Linked DNA regions of Homo sapiens. The protein of the gene in region 2 purifies or fractionates together with the protein of the main gene of each other region. This does not show direct contact. Each region holds a gene or a part of one and is shown on either strand. Other genes may lie near its edges.

The links.
Region 1: the proteins of SLC6A20 (region 2) and CORO1B purify together in Homo sapiens (affinity purification with mass spectrometry; one large-scale study listed by BioGRID and IntAct). This does not show direct contact.
Region 3: the proteins of SLC6A20 (region 2) and CNNM1 purify together in Homo sapiens (affinity purification with mass spectrometry; one large-scale study listed by BioGRID and IntAct). This does not show direct contact.
Region 4: the proteins of SLC6A20 (region 2) and ATP8A1 purify together in Homo sapiens (affinity purification with mass spectrometry; 2 studies listed by BioGRID and IntAct, with this or other methods). This does not show direct contact.

The regions. Positions count from the first base shown.
Region 1 is NC_000011.10:67,437,744-67,440,476, forward strand, and holds part of CORO1B (coronin-1B), read right to left. Parts: intron 2,697-2,733; coding exon 2,592-2,696; intron 2,521-2,591; coding exon 2,375-2,520; intron 2,101-2,374; coding exon 2,043-2,100; intron 1,207-2,042; coding exon 928-1,206; intron 759-927; coding exon 633-758; 3' UTR 1-632. UniProt on the Homo sapiens protein: Regulates leading edge dynamics and cell motility in fibroblasts. May be involved in cytokinesis and signal transduction.
Region 2 is NC_000003.12:45,758,537-45,762,036, forward strand, and holds part of SLC6A20 (sodium- and chloride-dependent transporter XTRP3), read right to left. Parts: intron 1,487-3,500; coding exon 1,321-1,486; intron 592-1,320; coding exon 442-591; 3' UTR 1-441. UniProt on the Homo sapiens protein: Mediates the Na(+)- and Cl(-)-dependent uptake of imino acids such as L-proline, N-methyl-L-proline and pipecolate as well as N-methylated amino acids.
Region 3 is NC_000010.11:99,381,356-99,384,855, reverse strand, and holds part of CNNM1 (metal transporter CNNM1), read right to left. Parts: intron 1-3,500. UniProt on the Homo sapiens protein: Probable metal transporter.
Region 4 is NC_000004.12:42,577,106-42,580,605, forward strand, and holds part of ATP8A1 (phospholipid-transporting ATPase IA), read right to left. Parts: intron 2,874-3,500; coding exon 2,708-2,873; intron 1,283-2,707; coding exon 1,155-1,282; intron 1-1,154. UniProt on the Homo sapiens protein: Catalytic component of a P4-ATPase flippase complex which catalyzes the hydrolysis of ATP coupled to the transport of aminophospholipids from the outer to the inner leaflet of various membranes and ensures the maintenance of asymmetric distribution of phospholipids.

The sequences.
Region 1 (2,733 bases), on a different chromosome or scaffold from region 2:
CACCTGCCCCTCCCTGCTGCAGGACCCCTGGTCCACACCAGACCCTCCCCAGTCTCTCTGGAGGAGGCTGGGCTGCCGGGCCTGTCCTCCAAGGAAGAAGCAGCACCAACTTGAAGCTGGATGCAGCCTTGCATGTGTTCTCAGGTCTTCTGCCTCAGTTTCCCTGCCTGACAATCCAGGGGAGCAATGCCTGTGGGGCTGCTCACTGCCCCCAGACCTTCTGCACATGTGTGACTCCTGTGACATCCTCTGTCTCCAGGTTTCCAGACTTCTCAGCCCCACCCTTGCAGCAGCAGGTCAGCCTGGCTTTTAGAAAGAGAATTTTATTTGGAATGAAAATATAGAGCCCACCCTCCCGCCTCCTCTGGGGAGGGAGCAGAGGGCTGGGCAGTGGTCGGGGAGATGGTCCCTCAGAGGTCGAGGAGCTCGCCTGGGCGTAGACATCCTCCACAGGAACAGTGAGGAAAGCTGGGCGCTGGCTTCGGCCTGGGCCTGGGACGGGTGGGGGTGGGAACTGACCCCTGCGCTGCCTCAGAGGCTCTGGGCAGCCAGCTAGCCCGGTGCGACCCGCTGGCAGAAGCTGAGTGGGAAGGGGGCGGCGGAGGAGATGAAGGTGGCGTGTGGCTGTGGCCCTACGCATCCCCGTTCTCCATGCGGCCCAGCTGCTCCTCCAGGCGGCAGATGCGGTCGCCCTGCTCCTTGACCAGCGCCCTCAGGGCCCGCAGCTCCTGCATCACCTCCTCCAGCTTCCCAGCCTCCTGTGGGGACATGAAGCAGGGGTAGGGGGCGGTGGTCAGGGGCTGCTAAGCCATAGCCCTCCCAAACCCACCACTACCCCAGAGAGGGACAGCGAATGGCTGAAGCCCACACAGCAGGCCAGGGCCACACCTGGGGCTCCCAGCACCACCCCTGCCTGCGCGTGCATACCCCGGCTCTGGCCAGGCTGCCGCTGGGGGTGGCATCAGCAGCAGTGGTGGTGGAGGCGGGGGCCCCTAGGTGGGAGGAGCCCGGGGCCATGGCGGGCCGGCTGTCAGACAACACGTTGCGCCGGCTGATCTTCAGGTCCCGCTGCTTGCTGGGCACGTAGGCCTCCCGCAGTGAGATGAGGATCGGGTCGGCATCCCGCCCGCTCACCCACTCCTCAGCCTCCAGGGCTGCCTCGGGCCCGGCTGTGTCGGGGTACAGATCATCCTGGAAGAGGTCCGACTGGGCAGGGGGCCGGGGAGGTCAGGATCAGTTAGGAGGCCCCATCAGGGTCCCCTCATCCCTCCCCTGGCCTCCAGGCTTGCACTCTGTTAACCCATTCTCCCACGGCCTGGAAAGCTCAAATCTGGCCTTTAACTTCCTTTCTGGACACCATCAACAGCTCCCTCGGAAGCTTTCCCACCCTTCTGAGCAAGGCCCCTGTCATCACCTTCCCCTGCAAGGCACAGGGGCCACTATGTGGCTTTATGGGATTCTGGGGCCCATGGACTGTGAGCTCCTGGAGCAGGCCCTATCAGCTCAGCTCCACTCCCCAAAATGTGCCTGGCATGTTGAAAGAGCAGTCGGCAAATGCTGGCCAGAGAATCATGGAAGCGTGTCCGAGGCTCTTGGCATCTGAGGCCAAGCCACATGTGGCCCGGTCCCCTCTTCATGGGATTCCCCACTGCAGCCAGACTCCTTGTTCCTCTCTCCATTCCCACCACTGTGCCCTTCGCCTGGCCTGCCCCCAGTGGATGGCGCCACCCCAGCTGTGTTATGGGTCCTGCCTCCTTCAGGAAGATCTGTGTGGCTGCCACTCCCTCCCTGACTGCCTGGTGTCCTTCTCCTGTGGCTCATCCAGAGCAGGGCCCCTGCTCACCCTCTGTCTCATCCCCACTTGCCCCCTGACTGGCACAGCCCAACAGCTGGCTGGTACAAGGGCAAGCTGGCATCTGTCCAGCTCACTGCCCACAAACCATACTAGGTCATGTTCCATTCACAGGCCTCGCCCTGGTCACAACTGCATGGCCCGCTTGCTGGAGAAAGGGCCAAGTGAGCCGAGGGACGGGCGGCCTCACCTTTCTTGGCACAGTCATGACGATGGGCTCACACTTGCGCTCATGCAGTTTGTAGAACCTGGGGATGCAAGGAGGAGCCACGGGTGGAACCCTCACCGCCCCCCCCACCCACCGCCAGCTCTCCTGGCATCCTCCACTTCCAGTCCTCACCCCAGGACCTCCGCAGGCCGACCCCTAAGGTGGCTAGACCCCCACACGGGCTGCCTCGTGACAGTTCTCATGGCCCGCCGGGCCTCCCTGGCGCAAGGTTTCCTGCTCCCAAGCAGCCTCCAATGACCTGACCTCTCACCTTAGATGCCCCTATCCCCGAGTGGCCTCGGTAGCCCTCTTACCGGGCGATCTCGCACTTGCTGACCTCCAGGCCCCGCTTGGGCATGCTGCCCATACCCCGCTGCGGCTCCTTGCTGGTGAACGTGTTCAGGAAGTGGATGTAGGGAGGCTCCTCTGTGATCTCAAAGTACCGGATGCTGGAGTCACCCTGTGTGGGGAGGGGGCTCAGCACCTGGGCACGCCTCTTCCCTGCCCCTCGCCAGCCCTGCCCAGCCCCACCTTGCCGCAGACGTAGACCACACTGGTGTCGGGGTCGTAGAAGGGCAGCAGGGCCCCGTTGCTCGAGTCCAGTTCCTGCAGGGCCATGGGTTCCTCGAGGTTTTCCTGGCACATTGCAGGCAGTCAGGCCAAGCAGAACCTC
Region 2 (3,500 bases):
ACAAATAGGTCATCTTAGGCACTTCAAAACTCCTTAAATGGATCTAAAAATATTTGTCCTCTAATATTTTGGTGTCTCTTCAGCCAAAAACAAAAATTGCTTAAATTTGGTCCCATAAGAATTATAGTCATATTTCAGTTTGCAATGTGCCCTAATTCTAGGGCTTTCCTGGAATGAAGGATGCAGTTATCTTTGAGACCGGCTTTCATAGCCCACCCCCTTCCATGATGAGGAGGCAGGTGACAGGGAGGAACAGCCACCACGGGAGGGTGTGCGTTCTCCCAAGGGAGTTTTCTTCCTGCACACCTTCCTCATCTTCTTTAGACACTCAGGAAGTTGATGGGCTGAGCACTCCTGGCTTAAGCATTTGAAAAAGCAGCCGAGGAGTTTCCGCCTGTAAATAGTATCTGTAAAACCGTGAGCGGCTGGGAAGCCCACATCTCAGGCCACGGGGTCTGCGTCTCCCCTCTTGAGGCGACGCTGAACAAAAGTCCCCAGGGCCGCCAGGGGGATGCACATGGTGGAGGAGGCCACAAGCAGCCCGATGACAGCCAGTGCATAGGCCGGGTAATCTTTGGTCACGAGCTGGCCCTGAAAGGAGAGACTGAGTGTCAGCAGAGAGCACCTGCTGAGCACTGCCCCTGGGCCTCAGGGCCCATCCGTGATGGGGAGGTGATGTGACGTGGGCAGAGAGCATGTGGGGCCGGTGTCCTCACTCCTGGGGCCACGGGCTCTGCAATTCACTAGCAAATGTGCCAGGAGCCTAACTGCCCTCACCTTCTTTTTCTTCCATAAACTAGGAATAATAGTAACTACTTGAACCAGTGGGTGTAGAGCTATTGTTTGGAGCTACCCATAATGAATAACCATGGTAATAATCAAGCACCTTATGTCTAAGGCAACTTTCAGGGAACCTAAACTGTAGGCGACTACTCTTAGCCTGGAATGGGACTTTCCCGTGAAGGTAGCAACGTTCTCTGTCAGTGCTGTCTGCTGCGGTAGGCGCGGAGGAGAGCGCTGCTCAGGAGGCAGGAGCTGGCGCCTTTGCAGCGGGAGTTTTTCTCAGCTTCCGGGGGACAGGTGGATGGGGAAGCTCTGGAGGAGTGCCTTCCTCTCGCCCCACTGAAGCACATACCTAAAAGCTCAAAGCCCAGCTCCTCCGTGCTGGACTATTTCTAAAATACCTCAGTGATATTTCCATGTCGTGACAAATAACCTACCCACACCATGGAAATAGTCCCCTGGTTTCGGAAAATGAATGGCCCATGCTTTTCAGTGGCCATGGGGGCCCAGCGCCAGCCCTACGGAGACAGTAGATACCTGGGAGGCGTCCCAGGCTTGATACTTCAGGGTCCCCGTGAGGATGTAGTCGCTCAGGTAGAAGACAAAGAGGCTGACAATCAGCAGTGGGCTTACGCCAGCCCACATCACCTTCCAGTACCAGCTCACAGCTCGGCCGGTCATGGCCTTAAGGTCACTTTCAAATCTATTTGGAAAACAGGGAGAGAAAGTCTGGATTAACCAGGCTGCGGAGGTCAGGGCGTCCAGCTTGCCTGTCCCTATTCACAAAGGAACATTCTGTTCTAGGTGGTAAAGGATGTCTGAGCTTGGCCACTGGGCTCCTCTGTGACACCTTCTTGAGAGACGAGTGCTGCGGTGGGGAGGGGAGAAGGGCTGAGGCTGCCCAGAAGGGATGACGGAGCAAGCAACCCGCAGAGAGTGGACATCAGAAGACGCCTTCCTAATGCCAGCCTTCAGATGAAGGCTGCTGGCATAGCCCAGAGGGCAGCCTCCAGGAATGGTGGGCACAGGCAGCAGGGGATGGACATTTGTCAGGCTGGTCATCAATGACAGGGACTTCTTGGGCGGCTTTGCCCACCCCCCTACCCAGCCCGCCCCTGTCAATCAGTGACTCCCTTTCCCAGTAGAAACACCACGGAGCAGAATCACTTGGTCCATTGAAACCAGAGCAGGTTTTCTGGGACAGAGGAAGAGCCAACCTCGGACTGAAGGACCGTAGCCCTGGCCTGCTGGAGCTGGTCTAGAGTGGCCAGGGCAGTGAGTCCCAAAGGCGTTGCCCACAGCCACCATCACCACCTCCATCATGCCTGTAGCTCTCTTTTCCCTCTTCTTTACTTTTAAACCTACGGTTAGCAGCAGCACAACAGCAGCCAGTTTCTCATCGACTTGACAAACTAAGTACGTGTGTTTTTGAATACACGTACACAGTATAAAAAGTATCTTTGGCATTTTGGGAGATGTTGGCCCAACGAAACTCCCCATTTCACACAGGAGGAACCAAGGCCCAGGGCTGCGATGCCTTCTTCCTTAGGGCTTGGTAAAGACCAGGCCCAGAACCTGGGTTGGCCTCCTGCCTCCAGCCCAGAGCCTTTAAACCTGCTCCCTACAGCGGAAGAGGCAGCCTTGGCGGGAGGGGCTGGGGTGGTGTGGGTGTGACGTCACCAGCTGCAGCCACAGCCCCTCCCTCCCTGGGACCTGCTGCATGTCCTGGGTGTCCATGCGAGGCTGTGTGGCGACCACCACCTGCCCTTTGCTGCTGCTGACGTAGTTGGACTCTAGGCTGCAGGCCATGAAGGCTCATGTATGTGACACGAAAACCTGGGGCTTTCAAAATCAGACAGGTGAAAAAGTGTTGGGGGTCCTCTTGTCCCTTCACACCCCCATAACCCCCCCCCCTTTCCTGGATGGAGAAAGTTGGGAAGAGCTGGCTGCAGAAAAGCCCCAGGACACTGTTGCTGGGTGGTCACTAGATGGCGGTGTCACCTGAGCAAGCCGAAGCACTCCCCTCCTGCCACTTACATGGTCAGTCCACCTACGACATCTCCAAGGCACGTTTGTTTCTGCCTCTGTCTCCCTTCACCAGCCCCTTTTTGATGGACTTGTGCCCCTCACCCATCTAGTGACCTCCAGCGGGCCCTAGGTTCTGTTCCTCTCTCCCAACCTTCTCTTTTTATCCTGAAACACTCACCCTCTCAGTGACCAATCTCTTTCTCCCTCTAGACTGGCATTTCCTAGGTGACCAGGGATTTTCCCAATTTTAGTACTGAAAGTTCCACGTCCCAGAAAACCCCTCAATCCTGGGGAAACAGGGAGAGTTGGTCCCCTTAACACTAGTGTCCTCAAAATGTTAGTAGCTAAGGGTGGGAGTCGGGTGAGAGGAGGGTGAAAAGGCATTCCTTGACCAAGTAAGTCTGGAAATGCTGCAATTCTAACCCTCTCTTTGGGATCCACAACTGTCTTTAAGATTCTGAGAAGTCCTACGGGAAAGACATCAATTTGGCTTTGTTTAACTTATGTCCTGATGGATCATGGGAGATCCCTCAGCATGGCACGGGACCCTGGCCTTTCCGGGGACACAGCAGGGATTGCTGCTTCAGGGATGCCTGCCTCCCAGAGTGTTGTCAATGTCTCCCTCCCCACCCTGAACCAGCACAGAGGATCAAAAAGACTGGGGAAGAGGGCAGAAAACAACGTGGCAC
Region 3 (3,500 bases), on a different chromosome or scaffold from region 2:
ACCTCAGGTGACATCACCCTCCTCAGCCTCCCAAAGTGCTGGGATTACAGGTGTTAGCCACTGCACCCGGCCTCTTTTTGTTTTTAAAAAACAATGATAAGCCCCTCTTGTTACCTGGAATCAAGGATCCAGGAACTCTAACCCTCTTTTTAAGCATTGTCAGGGAGGAAAGGACGGGAAGAAAGTATTTTTGGTAACAATACTGAGTGAATGGGACACACTTCCTCGTGAGGTACCGAGTTCCTCATCATTGGAGGCATTCACACAGATGTTAAGCCACCACTTGTCAGTGATGCTAAAGAGAAGATTCAGACGGCCACACTAGTGGGAAGAAGCACGGCAGTGTATGGCAGTGAGGGTGGGGAGGGGGAGGGGCTGGAGAGGGTCTGCACTGTTGGTGGGTGTTTATATAAAAGGAAAGGTACCACCCAATGGCTAAATCCTCTATGTGACTCACAGCCTTAACAGCCTTGCTTTCTTTCACACAGCTCTCTTTTTAAAAAAAATTTTTTTTTAAATCATGAACTCCTGCCATGTCAATGTGTTGCCTTAAAAGAAATTGTTGACAAGGTGCCAATGTATCCAGGGAAGCAACTCTGCTCTGCCTCTCCCAGAGGCATTTCTAGGTTCGGGTATCACTTCTTGTCAGTTCCTTCCCCTTGTTCAACAACTCATGACAACTTATTTTAATCTAGCGTAATACTGTTGAAGAGAAATGTAACGTGAGTCCCGTCGGTAATTCAAAGTTTTCTAGTAGTCACATTTTAAAAAGTAAAAACAAGTTAATTTTAATAACATATTTCATTTAACCCAATATATCCAAAATAATTTCACATCATCATGTGATTAGTTAAAGTGATTAGTGAGGAATTTTACATTCTTTTTCGCACTGGTCTTGAAATACAATGTGTATTTTGCACTTATAGCACATCAGTTGGAAAGAGACACACTTCATGCATTCAACAGCCACATGTAACTAAATGGCTGTATTTATACATGGCTACTGGCTGCTGTACTGGATGGTGAAGGTTTAGTGGACGGCCTAAACAGCTGTGCCCAGTTTCGATGACCTGGCCTCGCAGGGCCAACAGCACTCCCACTACTCACCAGGACAGAACCACTGGTCCCACCCAGCTTCTCTCTCTACCCAGTCCCTCGAATGCGCCATGTCTACTTGCCTTCCATACCTGTTTAAGGGTGTCCCTTTGCATGGCATTGCCTTAATTCTCCTCTTGTTCTTTCCAAACTCCTAAAGTACATTCTCCAGCCAATTAGTGCTTAAAAAATTCCAGATAGTGGCTCACACCTGTAATCCCAGCACTTTGGGAGGCCGAGGCGGGCGGATCACAAGGTCAGGAGTTCGAGATCAGCCTGACCAACATGGTGAAACCTTGTCTCTACTAAAAATACAAAAATTAGCCAGGCGTGGTGGCGCATGCCTGTAATCCTGACTACTCAGGAGGCTGAGGCAGGAGAATCGCTTGAACTCAGGAGGCGGAGGTTGCAGTGAGTTCACTGAGTTGAACTCAGTGAGGTAGAAGATCACGCCACTGCACTCCAGCCTGGGGGACAGAGTGAGACTCCGTCAAAAAACAAAAAAAAATTCCACATAATTTTGTAATGAATTAGATAGTACCCTGCATTGGTCACTATTATTTAACTTACCTTAAGCTTCCTCTCTCTAACTGGTCTTAATCTACTTATAAGGCAGAGGATATATTTTTATTAGATTTATATTTCTGTAGTATAGCTCATGGCACCCAGAACCATTGTTAATGCTTAACAAATACTTATCAATTAGTTGACTGAGGGAATCAAGCCACTTTTCAACAGACTCCATGTTTTTGTTTCCTCTTCATTGCAGTAGATATAACCATTTATTAGCAACAGCTTTAGTTCAAATTGTCTTCTCTTATAGAGTGGCCAGTTTAGAATCCAATCACCCACTAAGCTACAAAGGAAGCGGAGGTCTGTTTATTCTGAAAGTAGTGAAAAGCAAGGGTGGCTTTCTGGACTTTTTGACTTAGCAGCCAAGGTGTCCAGAAGTTAACCTTTAGGCTAATGTGATGTCTCCTGTCATTTTATTTTAGAGACAGGGTCTCACTCTGCTGTGCAGGCTGGAGTGCAGTGGCATGATCACAGCTCACTGTAACCTTGAACTCCTGGGTTTAAGCAATCTTCCTGCCTCAGCCTCCCAAGTAGCTGGGACTACAAGTGCATGCCACCATGCCTGGCTAATTTAAAAATTTATTTTTATAGAGATGGGGGTCTCACTTTGTTGCCCAGGCTGGTCTCACACTCCTGGCCTCAAGTGATTCTCCTGTCTCAGCCTCCCAAAGTGGTGGGATTACAGGTGTGAGCCACTGCACCTGGCCTCCTATCATGGTATGATGTTGTTTTCACTTTCAAGTGGTTTATTCATCCCTGAAGACACAATGCTGCAATCTAGGGTGATGAGGAATCTTGGTCAAGGTTACGTAGTCCAGACTGTAAGACATCTGCCAAGTAGTCTTAGCTTAATGATGACACAGAACACATTTCAAAAAACTTACTTCATAAGAATTCTTTGGTACCTTCATAACTTATTAACTACCATTAATCATGGCTTTGTTTAACACCTTTCCCAGATAACTATTAGATGCACCTTTCTATCTCATTTTGTAACTTATCTTGAAGTTCAATTACTCCTGGACTTAATTCTGGACCTTCAGTCTGTTGGATATAAAAAGCCCTTGAGAAACCTTCCAGCAGCCAACCACAGGGGCTTCGCCCTGTGAAAACACTCATCTTGCAGTCTTCTCTTTAGCTTCCCCCAAAACCCTCATGTTAAAAAACACAATAACAACAGAAGGAAAGATGGGGAGAGACAGGTGAGGGAAGTAGATAAATGAGTGGCCTAAATAACGTCCCTAACACAGTCTAATCAATCAGGAGGAGGTAATTTTCAAAGTTAATCTAAGGCAGAATCTTATATTAAAAAAAAAAGAAAAGAGAAAATCAAAACAAAAAAGACACTTGTGTTAAAAAAAAGAGCTTGAACTCACAGAATTCCTTTTTGGAGAACTACCCATTTTAATCAAAGTTTTTTTTTTGTTTTTTGGTTTTTTTTTTTGAGACGGAGTTTCGCTCTTGTCGCCCAGGCTGGAGTGCAGTGGCGCCGATCTCGGCTCACCGCAACCTCCGCCTCCTGGGTTCAAGCAATTCTCCTGCCTCAGCCTCCCGAGTAGCTGGGATTACAGGTGCCTGCCACCATGACTGGGTAATTTTTTTATTTTTAGTAGAGATGGGGTTTCGCCATGTTGGCCAGAGTGGTCTTGAACTCCTGACCTCAAGTGATCTGCCTGCCTCAGCCTCCCAAAGTGCTGGGATTACAGGTGTGAGCCACCGCGCCTGGCCTAAAGAGGTTTTTGAATAACACTCTTTTTTTTCCTTTTTTTTTTTTTTTTGAAGACAGAGTCTCACTCTTGCCGCTCAGGTGGAGTGCAATGGCCTCGGCTCAC
Region 4 (3,500 bases), on a different chromosome or scaffold from region 2:
AGCATAAGCCTGCTGGGTTCATCCAATACTAAAATTATATAATTCTTTGAAAGATATTATTTTTGAAAATCAAAACAACAAAGTGATTATCTAGCTTACTTATGTGATTCTCACAATGAGTTACCCTATTATTGCTATAAGAAACTTCAATAAGTCTTACTTATATTTGTACATATCCTATTACGTAATTTTTCAGCCATATATCTCCTGCATGAAGTGAGCTACACCTGCAGCTCATTTTAGATTTCTAAATCACACTGATTTCTTACCAATGAATTAAGAGATTGACAGTTTAGGTAGATAATTCGCTACAAGAAGATAATGAGCAGTTACAAAAGTATGTCATATTTTTCGAAACCCTAATATTGTTCATATTGAAAGACTTTACAATGATTGAAAAAGAAAGAAACATCAAAAATAACACAAAGTTTCTCAAAATAAAAGAAAAATTAAATTTTCTGGCAGATTAGGCCCACAGATTTAATTTAGATAAATTCATTAATTTTAACTTTAATAAAAATAAAACTAAGACATTTAAAAACATTTAGAAAGTAGATGTCCAACATTTTTCTAATATTTAACAATATTCAAGAGAAAAATTATGAAGAAAAATTCAAGTGAAGCTAAAATTGTTTACAGTGTAGAAAATAACATGATATAACATGATAATCTGGTTGATATCAGTAAGAATTACAGTATTATTTGTATAGTGATTGATTATTTTCAAAGCTCTTTGCTATGTCAAGAGATTCCTTAGTCCATAAAACCACTGTAAGATGTAGGTAAGGCATATTATCCCTATGATTGTGTTCAAGAAAATAAGTTTCAAAATAAGTGACTTGAGAAAGTTGATACACCTAGTAAATTATAATACTAGAACCATAATTCAGACACTTAACTCCAAACTCATGGTTCTCCATCTCCCACGACCACCATAGGTTTCCTGAACTAGAGACCCATTTTCCCTACAATGTCTGGCCTGTAAACTTGTGTGATTCTGAGATGAGGAACTTTGCAACAAATTAGGTTCAAAAATCTGATACTGTGGTCAAGAAACGGTAGATATAATTAAAACCTTTTTTCTCCTGAGATATCAAAATATCCTAAGGACAAAATTATTTTGTAGGGTGATAACAATCATAATTCATATTTACCCAATTTATGAAGTATGCCTGGGTAAATTTCACAACTTCTAATGTAACCAATAAGCTGATAGGAATGAGATTGTTGAAAAGGATGATGAAGGTCAAGAAATTCAGTCCAAAATTACTAGCGCCACCATCTGTTGGGAGAGGCAGGAAGAACGTCATTTACAGTTTTATATTTTATTTGCATTGACCCCAAATTAGCATAATACAAGTTTTCCATACTACGCAGCTTATTTGATAATTTGGGAGGAACACTTTGCTGATAATCTATCCTAATTCTCAAGTACATCCTTCAAGATAGAATTGCATTGTGTTCAATATGTTGTTAATCCAGGTAAGAGCTGTATAAAAGTACTAAGACAGTGAAAGGACTGTCAAATATTGCAAACCCTCTTCCAAACACAAAGTTTAGAGACATCAGGGATAGCACTGAGGGTTTATAAATATAAAATCTCAATTGGGTAGAATCACTTTTATATAAATTCTTAAGAGTATTTCCAATTTAAAGCATACTTTAAAAGCAAACAAGACAGCAGCAGCAAAAACAATCCAAACTATATGAGTAATATTCAGTCCTAGGTAAATTATTCTCCTAGGTACATTATACTCTTCTTCCTCAAAATGAAAATAAAACTGCTATACCAGATACAATTATAAAGTATACAAAGAAACAGACTGATGGTAGTAACAGTTCTGATACTGAAATAATAAATCAGTAACTATAAAAACAACTTGGAATTGCTGCAAAGATAAATCAATATAATAAAAAAAATTTAAAAATACCAGTTTTTGCTATGTGATTGTACTAGAATTTGCTTTCACACTTTTGGAAGTTAAGTCTTTATTGGCTAAGTACTCATGAAATGAAAATGTAAACTCATTTGACAGAAATATCCAGGGGTGGTACATTAATATCACAATAATAAAAGGATAAATGCTCTAAAGGAAAACTATTTACTAGCACCTTCTCTAAGATAACATTTAATATAGGACTTACCACATTACTGAGTTCAAATGAAAATACATTGGGTTTAAACATTTTTAAACCATATAAACCACTTTTTGGTACTTTTATTTAAATAAAATATAAACAAAGTATATTTTATTTAAGATAAAATATATTTAAATATTTATATTATTTAAATATATTTAAAATATTTTATATATTTATAAATACATACAATATATATTTAAATATATATGTTTTGTTATATCCACACATGGTCAATCTACTTTCTTTACCATATAGTTAACCACCTATGTTAAAAATATTTTTAAGGAATAGTTTTCGTTGATATATATAATAAATGACTATACTTAGTGAACATTTTATACCACTATAGAGTGCTCATTATGTTTTTAAGGATTCTGAAATTTTAGGATTCCCAAATTTTACTTACACTTGCTAGAAATCTCACTGAAAAATAAAGATCAAATGTCCAGCTATCTTGGCAACAAGGTCTTTTTAGAAACAATACGAAATAAAGTAAATCAAGATCAATTGTGAAACAAATACATGTCTTAATCTAAAAAAGTGCAGTAAGCACTTTATTGCTTACAGTTTAGATTGAGATACCAGTCTTTTCCAGAATGCCTTCGATTCCAAATGGCTGAGCCCACAGAACAGACAAGAGACATGGCAATTAAGATACAAAATAAAATCAAAATTTGTACATTTGTAATCCGTTCCACATTTGAGAGCTTAAGTGGTGGACTTGTTGAATTCTGTAAAAAGAAACAAGATGAGTAATAAAAAATGTACACCAATGATTTAGCAATCTATACTTAGTATTCTGTTGAGGATGACAAAGTCACAACTCAGTATCTAGATGTGGGTGGATACGTGAAAATTATGTGAAACCCATGACAAATGTAATAAGGTGCCAATGGTTAACCACCTTTTTTTCAAGGCCACTACACCACCCAGGCCTTTTTCTAGGAAGTAAACTATAAGAAAGAAGAGAACGAAATTACATTCCCTTTGCAAAAATAGCTTTTGCATTGTGGCAGGTAAGATGAATAATGCATTACTTGGCTATGTAAGCAAACAGGGTAGTCTAGAAACATTTAGTGTTTCCGTTCAGGAAGACAGGCAGACAAGGCAGCCCATGCTCCCGCAAACAGGCACCTGGAAATTTGAACATAGGAAGGCAACATTTAAAGGATCTCCGGCTTTCAAATTTCTGGTGGCATTTAGCAATTGTTTTACTGAACGCAGCAACAATTTAAGTAGTCCTGGCTATAAAGAATAACAGAGGCAAGTTGCCTCAGTTGTATTTGATGATTCAAATGGTTATGTAGACCTGTGCTAACCAAAAAATCCATAGAACAGAAAATTAAATGTCAGAATGA